Linked DNA regions of Homo sapiens: region 1 is reported to be linked to region 2. The links are microRNA targets in miRTarBase. Many come from high-throughput screens and were not tested one by one. Region 2 holds a microRNA gene; the other region holds the end of a gene's coding sequence.

Region 1 (3,156 bases), not on the chromosome of region 2:
TTGAAAACAGGTGTCCTAAGACCACCATCACCTTACCAATGTCAGACTCCACTGAGGGGACAGAGTGTTGTGGCCTCAGTTCCAAAAGTACTTAAACCTCAAATTCTAATGTACTTAATATAAACATTCCAGAATCTCTCCTCTGTTATCTCTGCCAAGCTTCTGGCAAAGAAAGACATTTGAATCTTTCTATTATAACACTTTCTTAAAAGAATTTTTTGTTTTGAAAGAGAGCACTTTTTGGGAATTCTTTTAGGAAGGGCTCAAAGTTGATTCCAATTTGGGTTGTGGTTTCTAAGTGACTTGTGTATAAACCAGTTAAACAGAGACTTGCCGCTTGATGATGGAATGTTTTGAGTAGAGAATGGATCTGGGGTTAACATCCTTCCTCCAACTCCTTCATGCTGGGTGTGGAGAGGAAGAACGAGGACTATCACAAAGAATTTATATAAACAAAATACTTTATTATTGAGAGAGTAAAGGCCCAATTACAAAATTTTTATACTTAAGATCTGTTTATTACCATGCCAATGGTTTATAAGGACTGTAGTTTCCATAACTGTTAGGCTGAACCCCATGAAACTCCTTCTTTGTAGATAAAAGCCAGCCTAATATTGGCAATTTCACGTGGTTCAACCTCACATACAATGAGCCACTGCCTAGGATTCTTTTGGCAGCAAGATGTTCCCAGTCACATGTCTGTTTATATTATAAACAGATGTCCAAGTGATAAATACATCCCTCTTGAGAAAAACATCCTGTGCTTATGTATACTGGGAATGGTCTTTTGTGGGTATTGAGGCAGCGCAGCTCTGGCTTTGCTCTTCCCAGCTTGCCCGGCCACCCGATTCCTCAGTTTCATCACAGGAGGATTCTTTACAGATGTCAGCCACCCGTCCAAGGCCACGCAGCTAGTAAACAGACAAGCCTGTCGGACTTTGAAACCAACTTGACCGGGTCATTTATAAAGGCCGGGAATACACATGACTCAGGTGCTCTTTTGAAACGACTACAAAAGTCTCCATTTTGATCAAAACGTTTTCTCCGAATGAATGGCTCCGATGCTTTCTCTTTCCCATCTTAAGTCCCCGCTCTGTGCCTCAGAATAGTCTGTGTCCAAGAAAATAAGAATCACGTCATCTTGCTGTGGACACTGAGCAAAAAGGAGCAGCATGCTATTAAGATGGTTGAGACACACGAGTGAACAAAGATGGGACAAACTGTGCTTCGTTCAAGAGGTTTCATCAAGACCCCTACCGCCCCCCGTCCTTCAGCTCTGTACAGTAACTTTAACTTTACATAGAGCTGAGATAAAAATAAAGCTTTCTTACAAATTACATTTTTTTTCCAGTGAATTACTTTTGCAGTAAAAATAGCTGCTACATAAATCCCTCCTGATCTCTGAAAAGGAGTTGCATATTTCCAAAAATAATATTCTTATTTTAATCACACAGAAGAACGTGGAGCACAGGAAGGAAATGGCTGGGTGGTCAGAGAGAGGTGAGCTGTCGGAGAAACACAGTTAAACTAAAAAATAAAATCCATTTTGTGTATAAACTGACTTAAACGCATGCAAAGAAGTGGAAAACATATGCCATTTGTCAAGAAAAATACTGCTTTATAGCTTTTACTTTACAATTAAAGGAGAAAGCAGAGGCCAGATATAAGCCCAGATAATAACATTTAAGTTTCTCATAAAAACTCCCAAATGTACAAAGTCCTTGCCAGACAACCAAGGCAAGAAAACCCCCCAAAAACAAACAAACAAACAAACAAAAAAACACAAAAAGCAGGGATTACCCCCCACAGGCCTTATCCCTGTAAGTCTATTAAATGTAAATAATACATACTTTACAACTTCTCTTAGTCGGCCCTTGGCAGATTAAATCTTTGCAAAATTCCATATGTGCTATTGAAAAATGAAATAAAACCTCAGATGTCTGAATTCTTATTTCAAATACAGTTATATAATTATTTTAAATTACAATATACAATTTCTGTTAAATACAACTGTTAAGGGATTCTGAGAACAATTATAAGATTATAATAATATATACAAACTAACTTCTGAAATGACATGGTTGTTTCCTTCCCACCCTCCTACCCTCTCAAAGAGTTTTTGCATTTGCTGTTCCTGGTTGCAAAAGGCAAAAGAAAATCTAAAAATAGTCTGTGTGTGTCCACGACATGCTCGCTCCTTTGAGAATCTCAAACAGCCAGAACCATCCCGTCCCACGGACTGCCAGGCGCCAGGACGGCTTCCTGGTGCCTCTTTCTCGACCATTTTCACTTAAAAGCACTGTGAGTAGAATTAGCTGTGCCGTTGCTGCCACAAGGGAGGCAGCCTGGTCAAGAGGCGTGGTTTGGGATGCAATAAGGCCACTGCTTCTTGGCCACTTTCCTGGACATTTTCAATCCTGCCTTTCCTGGGTCCTCGGAGCAGCTGGTCAGGATGGGCTTCCCACTCAGTCCACGAGCCTGGGGCCGGCTCAGGGTGGTCCCGGCGACCTCAGTCCTCCGTGTCGGGCTGGACGCCCAGGATGGCGTGCAGTTCCTCGGGCGTGAACCCCAGCAAGTTCTGGAGGTCGCACACGAAGCGGTACACGTAGCGCTTCCCCGACGTCTTGTGGATGATGTTCTTGTCGTAATAGTAGCGTAAGCCCCGGCTCAGCTTCTCGTAGTTCATCTTGGGCTTATTTTTCCTCTTTCCCCACCGGCGGGCCACCTTTGGTGAACATGGATGGAAAAGAGTTAAACTCAATTTGTCAATGAAGAAAAAGTGAATGACATTCCTCCCTGATTATGATTCTGAGGCATGTTCACTCTAGAGAGAACTTGACACCTACACAAGGTCCGCAGGAGGACCTTTTGAGTACCTCTGAGTACCTTTGAGTACCTATGGTAGGGGCACTGTGTCCCCAAGGGGCAGAACCACTGGGGAATGAGGTCCCTGCTCCCTGGCCCCAGCTCAGTGAAACCTCCTGGGAGCCAAGGGTTCAGAGCCAGGAGGGTCCTGAGACCAGGGAAAGGTGGTGTCACCCACCCTCCAGGCTGGATATTCCAACTACTGAAGTTAACAGGTGCCGAGTGGGATTCTGAGCTGTGTGATATACTCATTCCTCAATGCTTGTCTCCCAAGGGAACTGGAGGCGGGGT
Region 2 (3,156 bases):
TTATATAGAATTGTTTCGGAATAGAAATTAATGGGGGTTAAGAAAATTAGGGATGAGGCAATAACATTTTTCCAGAACTTTCTTTAAGGGGCCGACCTCTAAAGTTCAGCACAGATCACATTGCAATCCAGACTTGCTCTATTATTTTCTCTATTAGGATTTCATTCAGCTTGAGGGTTTTCTTCCCTCCCACCTTCCTCCCCCTCTCCCACCCTCTTTCACCTCCAGGACAGCTGGAAACTGACCAAAGAAAACTTCTGCCTTCGTTTACAAATTCCTTTTTTATCAGTGGGTTTCTAGACAAAGTGCCTTATTTTAAATGCTCAGAGAAGTGGAAGCATTGTAAGCTATAGGCAAGAGGGCTCAGCTGAGCAGCAATTATTAACCACTCTTTGATTTAAAAAAAATGTAAAACAGATATTTACAGGGGTATCTAAAGATAGAGGTTTTTATTCCCTGATTTACTCAGTTGCTGACTCAATAAGTTGTGGGTCGGTGCTCTTCTCTGGGCAAATCCCATCTGCATTGTCTGGTAGGCAAGACTTGGCAGGTTCTTCTTTTATTGTTAGGTACTATTATTCCTGTTGTTTATATTACAGAAGGAAATCTTCAGAAAAGCACTATCCATATAGCATTTAAAAACCAGCAAGTATTCTTTACTTTGGGGAAAAATGACTTCAGTCCTGGGATGTTAAAAGTTATACATACAGCCTTCATCCATATAAGTTTTTAAATCTTTGAATTATTATTAAACAATTCAAAAGTAGCCTCATTAAACTATTCTTAAGTGTCTGGAATGAGTTTTTTCATATTTCATTTTGAAGTGGGAAAACCTTTAAGAAAACACTTGAATTATCAATCTTCAGAAATAAAAAAAAAAAAAACAGTAAATCGCTATATACCACACACTTTTGCTCTTTTAAAATTAAATACATCTCTACCCATCACACATGTACCTCTGTTTCCCTTGCATGTTAACACAAATCATGGGCTCCCCACCTAGGTTCCCTTGGTCACAGACCAGGTGAGCAGTCAAGAAGGCCTTACCCGCTGGTCTTCCCTTCGGCAGTCTTTTCTCAGCAGTGTCCCCGAGGGCTTCTTGGTCCCTAGTGTGCAAAACCTGTGAAGAAAAACACTGGATATGAGATTCAAAAAAGGAGCAAACAAATGTCTTCTCCTTGGAAACAGCCCATTTTGTCCCCAGCGGTCCATGGCGTTGCTCTCCCTTGCCCAGTCTAACCAATGTGCAGACTACTGTACAACGGCATTGTCCTGAACAGGTAGTCTGAACACTGGGGCGACGGAGCAGGATCTCCAGAAGCTTCCTTCTATGTACTTAAAATCCTCTCCCGGTCCTCAGGAAAAGCCTCCCTTCCTGCACCAGGGGTTGCATTCAGCTTTCCCCCCTGAATTCTGCTGCGCTGACTGAGACACACTCAAGGGCTGTGATTTCCAGTCTTGACGTGGCACATTTGCTGCAGACTGGGGAACTGGCAATGAATTTAGGACCAGGAAAAGGGGGAGGGCTGGGCTGGAGAGTCCATATATGGGATGATGTCACCCTGGGGAGGTTTGGGTATGCGCTGTGCCGCTGGAGAGACCGCTAGAATCGCCTGCTCTCAGACATGGGTCTGTGCATAAAATGGTACCAGATGTTTTAGTGTAACGTTAAGCAGTCATTTCATCTTCAGGCCAGATTTTTTTCCTCAACTGGGCAGGAAGTGGGCCCCAGTATGGAAAAGCTGTAAAAAAAAAAGAGTCAAGATGTACAGTTCGGCTGTGGCCAACTGAAAGTGAGTTAGTGTAGAAGTACAAATTTACTGTCTGACCCAGGCTAGAGAAGTAATTTGAAGATAGAGGGTAGATGAAATAGTAAACAGAAAGTTGAACACTGGAAGGCAGAGCTCATTTGGAAACCTTTTTGAGCTTTCCTGTGGCACTTTATTTTCTGGTATTTCACTCGTCAAAAAGGGCAGATAAGTTTCTGTCTGTCTGTCTGTCTGTCTGTCTCTCTCTCTCTCTCTCTCTCCCCCTCTTCCCCTCTCCCTCCCTCTCTCTCCCTCCCTCCCTCCTTCCCTCCCGCTCTCTCTCTCTTTCTCTCCTTCTCTCTCTCCCTCCTTCTCCTGTCTGTTGAATCTGTCAGCAGCTTGCAGGCTGCTCTAGACTTGAACAGTAATTATAGCAACTTCCTGAAAGTGAAGCCCCCATGAAAAGTCTGGAGAAATGTTCTTTGTCATGGCCTCTACATGAGTAATTAGTTCCACATGTGGCCTTCCTAGTTTCCCTCAGCTATTTTGGCTGGGTCTCTGAATGCTGTGCTATAGTTTGACCTAAAGAAACGTTACAGTTTTTGTTTGAAGCATCCACTACGAAACAACGACTCAGGTCTTCTAACAAATCGCCTCTGGTAGATCCATGCTGTTAGGTATAGCATTGTTTTTCACTTGTAATTCCTGATTCTGTTTTGATACTTTTGTTTTGTTTTCATGGTATTCTGTGGCTTAGTTTTATCTCTGGTTAACTAAATCTGTTGAAATTTGCCAAGTACCGCTTGACCAAAGGTTATAAGATATCAGCCCACTGGCATCTACTTTTCTTTCCCTGTTGTGGCTGTTTTCAATTATATATACTCTTGAATATTCTGAATATGTAGTTCTCTCACTTTCCCTCCATAGGATTCTGATCAAAGCTAGAGTCGCCTCAAACAAGAGCTTGATTAATTGCCCTTCTGAAGATCAAAATGTGAGAAAATTTCTAGGTAGCTTCCAAATTTAATTTGACCAACCAGACTAAGAAACTTAGCCTTCTTTAAAGAAAGTACAGCCAAAGCAATTCATTTCCACTGGCCTTCTGAAATACTTTTTAGAAGTAGAAAAATATATCTCTTTTTTATACGCTGCATTGTATATTTCAAAAAGCTTCAAGTGAGTACTGTCCTAAAGCATTTGCTTTTCATAAAATGGCCTCTTTTGAATCATTAAATAGCACACTACTGAAGAGTTCAAAAGTTATGACAAGCCCTTGTTATCTTGTGAGGAAGATTAAATAAGATAAACATGAATTATCTGGCATCTTAGGATGGAACAGAGGTTAGCACTGGGTACACCATTCATAGAAATATTTATATCATCAATAGGAGTCAGAGGAATGACTTTA

What was found. The annotated mature microRNA hsa-miR-199a-5p reads CCCAGUGUUCAGACUACCUGUUC and lies in region 2 at 1,275-1,297, opposite strand. An mRNA with a match to its seed (bases 2 to 7 or 8) in the 3' UTR can be bound and repressed. Matches are read on the target gene's strand: a 7mer-m8 pairs with bases 2 to 8, a 7mer-A1 pairs with bases 2 to 7 and ends in A, and an 8mer does both.
Region 1: the mRNA of ETS2 is a reported target of hsa-miR-199a-5p. Seed matches in the 3' UTR shown: 7mer-A1 at 1,347-1,353.

Annotation. Positions count from the first base shown.
Region 1 is chr21:38,822,243-38,825,398 of GRCh38, reverse strand. ETS2 (ETS proto-oncogene 2, transcription factor) reads right to left here. Exons shown (of 10, transcript NM_005239.6): 10 at 444-2,725. The coding sequence ends at 2,510. Among named protein-coding and RNA genes, the nearest start is that of ETS2, 18 kb to the right of the region's middle. RefSeq lists an enhancer at 2,461-2,998.
Region 2 is chr1:172,143,318-172,146,473 of GRCh38, forward strand. It overlaps MIR199A2 (microRNA 199a-2), which reads right to left and starts at 1,327; the gene lies at 1,218-1,327. The region is part of intron 14 of DNM3 (dynamin 3); the gene reads left to right. DNM3OS (DNM3 opposite strand/antisense RNA) reads right to left here and starts at 1,518. Exons shown (of 4, transcript NR_103486.1): 1 at 1,337-1,518; 2 at 1,048-1,120.